Homo sapiens: one gene and its partner. The protein of the gene in region 2 purifies or fractionates together with the protein of the main gene of each other region. This does not show direct contact. Each region holds a gene or a part of one and is shown on either strand. Other genes may lie near its edges.

What was found. The genes of interacting proteins can lie anywhere in the genome.
Region 1: the proteins of ST8SIA5 (region 2) and ECE1 purify together in Homo sapiens (affinity purification with mass spectrometry; one large-scale study listed by BioGRID and IntAct). This does not show direct contact.

What each region holds. Positions count from the first base shown.
Region 1 is NC_000001.11:21,252,464-21,255,963, forward strand, and holds part of ECE1 (endothelin-converting enzyme 1), read right to left. Parts: coding exon 3,484-3,500; intron 1-3,483. UniProt on the Homo sapiens protein: Converts big endothelin-1 to endothelin-1.
Region 2 is NC_000018.10:46,677,054-46,680,553, forward strand, and holds part of ST8SIA5 (alpha-2,8-sialyltransferase 8E), read right to left. Parts: intron 3,458-3,500; coding exon 2,989-3,457; 3' UTR 1-2,988. UniProt on the Homo sapiens protein: Involved in the synthesis of gangliosides GD1c, GT1a, GQ1b, GP1c and GT3 from GD1a, GT1b, GM1b and GD3 respectively.

The sequences.
Region 1 (3,500 bases), on a different chromosome or scaffold from region 2:
GTTTGAAACTGGGAGAGAAGAGAAGAATGCTTCTGAGCTTCATCTCAGCTGGAGAAATGGGGTAGAAAATGGGGCTCAGGCCCAAACAGCCTTTGGCGTGAGGGTCCTAGAAAGGAAGGGGAAGGTCCTCAGGCCCCCAGAAGTAATGGAAGAGTGTCTGATTCACAGCTCTGAGTTCAGACTCTGCTGGGGACTAGCCTGGAAGCATTCTGTACCCCAGCAGGGCTAGCCTAGAACCACACTGTGAAACCTGGCGTGCTTTTCCCTAAGTTACCTGGAGTATGGGAAGAAAACCCCATTTCCAGACACCAGGGAACAAGACATTCTCTGTCCCAGAGTAGAATGAATCAAATTGATTTAGTGCTGGGTTCCTGGGTGACATCGCTAATAACAAAGGAATAGTAACAATAATGATGAATATAATATGTTATGCTTGTACTGGGTTGTGCAAATGAGTTTACTGAATGAACTCTCATCCTTTACCTCAACTTATTCTCCAACAACCCTGTGTGGCAGGCCAGGAAGAGATTCTTACTTAGAACACAGGCTTCAGGGGGCCAGGACTTCTTTATTATTTTATTTTATTTTATTTTATTTTATTTTATTTTTTTGAGACGGAGTCTCGCTCTGTCACCCAAGCTGGAGTGCAGTGGTGTGATCTTGGCTCAATGCAACCTCCGCCTCCTGGGTTCAAGTGATTCTCCTGCCTCAGCCTACCGAGTAGCTGGGACAACCGGCGCACACCACCACACCCGGCTAATTTTTGTATTTTTAGTAGAGACGGGGTTTTACCATATTGGTCAGGCTGGTCTTGAACTCCTGACCTCAGGTGATCCACCTGCCTCGGCCTCCCAAAGTGCTGGAATTACAGGCCTGAGCCACCATGCCCGGCCAGGACGTCTTTAAATGTCAGACATAATTTTAAAAATATGCATATATACCCATTTATTCTGGGAGATAGTCCATGGTTTTTGATCTGTTCTCAAAGGACTCTGTGACTTAAAGTTAAGAACCACAGGCCGGGCGCGGTGGCTCACGCCTGTAATCCCAACACTCTGGGAGGCCGAGGCGGGCAACTCACGAAGACAGGAGATCGAGACCATCCTGGCTAACACGGTGAAACCCGGTCTCTACTAAAAATACAAAAAAATTAGCCGGGCGTGGTGGCGGGTGCCTGTAGTCCCAGCTACTCGGGAGGCTGAGGTGGGAGAATGGCGTGAACCCAGGAGGTGGAGCTTGCAGAGAGCCGAGATGGCGCCACTGCACTCCAGCCTGGGCGAGAGCGCGAGACTCTGTCTCAAATTAAAAAAAAAAAAAGAACCACAGGCCAGGTGCGGTGGCTCATGCCTGTAATCCCAGCACTTTGGGACGCCGAGGCGGGTGGATTATGAGGTCAGGAGTTCGAGACCAGCCTGACCAACATGGTGAAACCCCGACTCTACTAAAAATACAAAAATTAGCCGGGCGTGGTGGTGCCTGCCTGTAATTCCAGCTACTCAGGAGGCTGAGGCAGGAGAATCGCTTGAACCTGGGAGGCAGAGGTTGCAGTAAGCTGAGATCATGCCACTGCACTCCATCCTGGGCGACAGAGCAAGACTTTGTCTCAAAAAAAAAAAAAAAAAAAAAAAAGAGGAACCACAGTCCCTTGTGAGGGCAAGGGCTATGTCTCATTTGTGTTCTGGCACACAGCTGGGGTGAGTGAACGAGCCAAGCCCATTTTACAAGGAAGGCAGCCAAATTCACATTAGAATTTAATCAGAAATATCTGTAAAAACTCGAGAGAATCCATATATTTCCTAAAGATCTTAATTGAACTTTGGGTACTTAGAACACAGAGGCTGTTTGGCCAGGCGTGGTGGCTCATGCTTATAATCCCAGCACTTAGAGCTCCAAGGGGCTTACAGTCCTCTGAATCTAAGCCCAGGGCTTGTGTACTACAAGCTGCTGAGTCTGCTAAACTCCCCCCACCTTGGCAGCTGTGCAGCTGGGAGGCAGGAAAAGCCTTTCTTCCTCTGCTTGGAAGAAGAGAGCAGAAGCAGTGGTGATAGGATGCCTGGGGGGAACCTGGTGGCCATGCTGGGCTGATGTGCTCAGGGCTCCTGTGCCTTCTCCGCTATTCCTGGCACAGACAGTTGGCATCATGGCCACGGTAGGGGGCTGAGGCACTGCGGGGGCCCCTCAGGCTGAGAAATCGGCTGGAACAAACCAAATTATAATGCACAAACAACATCACCCTCAGCCTCCTGGCCTCAGAGCAGGAAAAGAGTGCCAGATGGTATCTAACAGCAGCTGTTGATCTCCATCCTGGTCTGAGCAGCACCACTGAGCCTCAGGCCAGTTTCTCTGGGAGCTGAAGGGCAGCCAGCACCAGCAGGAGGCCAGGCTCCCCTGACCCTGATCGTGGGCCCTAGCACGGCCTGCATCTCCGCCTGGGACACCCAGTTGGCCTGGAAATGCTCATCTATCGTTAGACTCACCTTCCCTGACTTCTCCCCACCCCTGGCTCCCAGGGCCCGCTGCTTTTGCCCAAAGCACTCAGCAATGAGACAGGGTTGTTTCTAGCTGGTGTCCCCCACTAGCCAGGAAGCACATGAAGCGCAAGGTCCCAAGACGGACCCATATACACCTGTCAGCTGGAGGAGGGTAAAGGGCAGGGACCTAGTGTTCTTCCTGAAAGTAGAAGGAACGGACAACAGGTCAAATTCGGCTGGTCACAAGGTAAGGAAGGAGGGAGATGACACTCTGCGGGAGCCCCTCCTCAGCAGAGAAGCAAGGCCTGGCCACGCATTCCTGGGTGATGTCAAGAAACGGCAAGATCGGTGGTGGCCATTCTGCTGATCCCTCTGCAATGCCAGCTGATGCTCTGGAAAGAAGGAACCAGCAAGCTATTCTCTCTGGACCCTCAAGAACCAAGCAGCCACCAGAGGGCAGCCTTTGGCAGAGGCTGAGCCCTTGGACGTTGGGCTTCTCCAATGGGTGACAGAGAGCATCACAGATCTAACGCCCTGTTGTACAGTGAGCCCATCTGCGGCTGGCTCCTCTGCCACTTAGGAGCCTCCGGACCTTGATCTGGCTCAGAAAAGGGAAAAGTAATGACAGAATCCACACCATGCATTTATTAAGTGCTCACTGTAACCAAGTTCGATGTGCTTGGTGCTGGAGAGACTGGAAAGGCGCTGTCAATGTAAGCTGGTGTGGTCATGACCCCGAGCCTCCAAGTAAACACTATTAATTACAGAGAAGCAGCCTGGTGTCGGCCAGGCGCCTATTTTGGAGTCACTTACTAGCTGTGTGCCCTTCAGCAGGTAACTTGACCTTTCTGAGCATCAGTTTTTCCATCTGTGGACTGGGCATAACAACCATCCTTCCTTTGTCACATAGTTTCAAGGACTAGATGAAATGAGTATAAAAGCCCCCAGTCCAGGGCCCTGTCTGAAACCTGGAGGCCATCCCAGCCTCCCTAGCAGCCGGCGCTCAAGTTACCTGCAGCTCGGCTGCCG
Region 2 (3,500 bases):
CCCTCCAGTGCCACTGTGGGTAAGTCGCTACTGCTGTAGGCGGCAGGGTTAGGGAGAGGCACCTATAAGCACAGGCTGCTTCCCGGACGATGACAGCCTCCTAGAGCATTTGTCCCTGGAGGAGGGCCCCGTACTATCCTGCAGGGGCATCTTGGTCAGGATCCCTCATGTTCTGGTGTCACTGTCTGGGAAGCTAAGACAGAGGTTTGGAGCACAGACTTTGGGGCTCTACAGATCTGGGTGCAGTTCCCTCCATTGGGTGCCGTTCCCTCCATTGGGTGCCTGACCAAGGGCAAGTCCTGGAATTGCTTTAAGCCTCTGTCTCCTCATCTGTACAATGGGAGCCTCCTTACCCAAAGGGGTCTCATGATGATTACAGGAGATAATATAGGGAAAGTGCTTAACGTAGCTTGATAAATGCTAGCTAGTATAATGAGAAATATTAATTATGGTTTAGATCCATTCATCATGAATGTCCCCCCAAAATAAGGACATTGTACAGACGCTGAAGATTTTTACAAAGCTTCTAGTTGTAGAGATGAGGAAACTGAGACATTGAGGGAGAGGAAGGACTGGCCCTAAGACCCACAGGCAGGAATATGGCCAGCAGCCAGGTGTCCCAACTCCTCTGTGGGCTGGATCCCGATGCTCCAATCCTCAGCTCCTACGAGGGCCCTGGCTGGGGCAGATTCCAACCTGCAACACCCTCAGCTGTGGGAATCCTGATGTCTGTGTCACCAGGGAGCCTCCCCCAAACACTGCCCATCTGGAACATAACTAGTACCCAGAGGGCTTCCAGTAGAGGGCTCTGTCCACAGCAGGCACTCAGTAGAGCCCCAGGCATGACTTGACCCAGTCACATCTTTGCTCTGGGCCTGTTTCCTAAAGTGGAACAAAATGGTCTTTAAGAACCTTCTAGTTTTTATATTCCATGGTTTCAAGAACTGGGTTCAATTAACCATGCAGTGGCTAGAAATCTCAGGTAACTGGAATCTTTCCCAGAAATTCCCTCCCTGGGAGAAATAGGCAGAGCTCAAGCAAGTAATAACCATCCACTGTCCTTTGCAGTTCTTCCTGGTTTAGCAGGTGTTTGGGATCATTTCATCCCCTTGGCTACTCCCCTACATTCCTGACCAGCAGACTGAGACTCAGAGCCACCTGAGGTTTTCCCAACCAGGACCAGAGCTCAGAATGCAGGTGAGAGTCAGCACTGAGAACAGTGTTGTGCACAGGGCACAGGTTCCACAACAACCCCCCCACAGGAAGCCCAAGCCAAGACACAAAAGTTTGGCCAAGAACGGAGCCCTGGATCAGGAGCCTGGAGGCCTGGGATAAAGCCTGCACTCTCCACGTCCCTGACTGGCTCAGCCGGGGGGCCTGTCAAATGAGGTGATTGGATAGCAGATCCCACTCCCTGATAGACTCTTACAGCTCCTAACCCTCCCAGAGCACCCAGCACGTGGGACTGGGTCTATAATCTCTGGGCCCTGCACCCCCAGAAGACACAGATAATGCCTTTGTTTATCCTTATGTCTTCCTAAGTCCAACCACAGACCAAAGCAGAATAGGCTTTCCAGAAATGTTTAAGGGGAGGAAGAAAAGAGGAAGGGAGGGAAGGAGAAAGGGGAGGAGGCAGGGAGAAAGGAAGGAGGGAGGGAGACAGGTTGCCAGGCAGGTAGGCTGAAGTCCTCCTCCCAGCACTAACATCCTATGATTCCACAAAGCTAAGTTCTAAGGCAGTTAGTTCACCAACAGTGTCTCTTAGACACCATCCCATTTATGGTGGAAACACCACAGGGAGAAGCAAAGGGAATTAATTTCAGATGTGAAATGATATGTGAACCCCTCTCTGCCTAAGCCCAGCTGACTGCCCCAAGCCCAGGCCCTGGGGTCTGCTGTGAGAAGTCCCGCCTTCACAGCGGAAGCCTCAGTGATGCTGGTGTCGGAGGCCACAACTCGTTTCTCTCTGCTAAGCTCACCACCTGACATGTCAGTGCTTTCCAGCCCAGAGCCTATGGTTCCGACTGAGGAACACGATACAGCAGGATTCTGCAGGATTCAGAGACATGAGAGGAAGAGGTCTTTATAAATAACTCCTGGTTTAAATGGAGCTGAAAATAGGAAGACAAAAGAGGAAGCCAATTGCTAAGCACTTATTGAGTCAATAACATTGGCTTGGAAGCCATAGTGCAAGTGGCTGGTTTGGTTTATTTCCTTCTCATCAAAAGAGCTAACGCAGGATTGAACCTGGGGGCACCAAGACCGCATGTGTGTCCGAGGATGTGTCTGAAAGGATGTGGTGCTTCTCAGATGATGATGTCTCGACTAAGACATAACCCAGGCCTTGGGTTAGATCTCTCGGTGTCACAGAAGAACCTGTCGGGTGGTGTGGCTTGGCTGTTAAGTCCCTGGACCTCTTGAGATCACTTTCTTCACTGGAAGGTCTAGTCACTGGGTTGGCTTCTAAGCTCTGAGATTTAGATAGCAATTCATAGCTAAGTCTTCGATATAAAACACAGGAACCAAAAGTGTGAATAAAATCTTGACTGTGCTCAAGTGTCCTGTGAAGTGTCCTGTCTCCACTCTCAATTCCATTCTCTGTAGGGTCTTCCTTCAGCTGCAACAAGGGCCTGCAGTTTGTGCTCTCTCTCGGATGACAAAATTGGGTGGAAATGTGCTTTATTCACTTGCCGTCCCCAGGGCCCCTGATCTTGGGGTGTGGCCCAGCAGCATGCTAGCCAGGGCAGGTGGACGCACTGGGCGGATGCACCGGTGGGGGCCAGGCCAGGAGGCTCAGCACAGAGCTGACTCTGCCCCGGTTCCTAACCCTGCCTCCCTACCCCAGGATCCAAGTACAGAGCTGAACAATGGAGGGAGAGACAGCCTGAACGCCAGGACCCCACGCTGCCCGGTTCGGGGCTCCCAGTTCCACCAGGAGGGACAGCAGGAGAGGGGGCGCCGCTTGCCGGGCAGCCTGGCTGGCAGCCATCAGCAGCAGCTGCAGGTGCCCGTGTGCACGCGGAGGATGCCTCGGCTGTGCAAGTGCAGGAAGTTGAAGATCTCAGAGGGCATGGCGTGGAAGCCGGGACGCGGCTTGACGTTGTCATAGTAGTGGTGAGTGATGTAGAGGCCCGAGGGGTTCATGGGGAAGGCCCAGAAGCCAAAGAGGTGCACCTCCTCACAGAGCTCCAGCGCCGCAGTGACCAGAATGAGGCCGGTGCTGATGCGCTTGGCGCGCACCCCCAGGCTGAGCCAGTAGCGCGACACGTTGACCAGGTACTGCGGATGGAAGTAGTAGACAGCTTGCGGCGATTCGAAGTCGTCCAGCACGTACTTGACGCGGATGGACACGTCGGTGTTGCGCGTGTTGTAGAAGGCAGGCAGCAGCACCGACGCGTTCTCGTACACCTGCAGCACGCGATAGAACGGCCGCCGCCACTTCTCCAGCTTGTGGAACCTACACAGGGCGCGAGTGAGAGGTGAGCACCCACTCCTCCGTG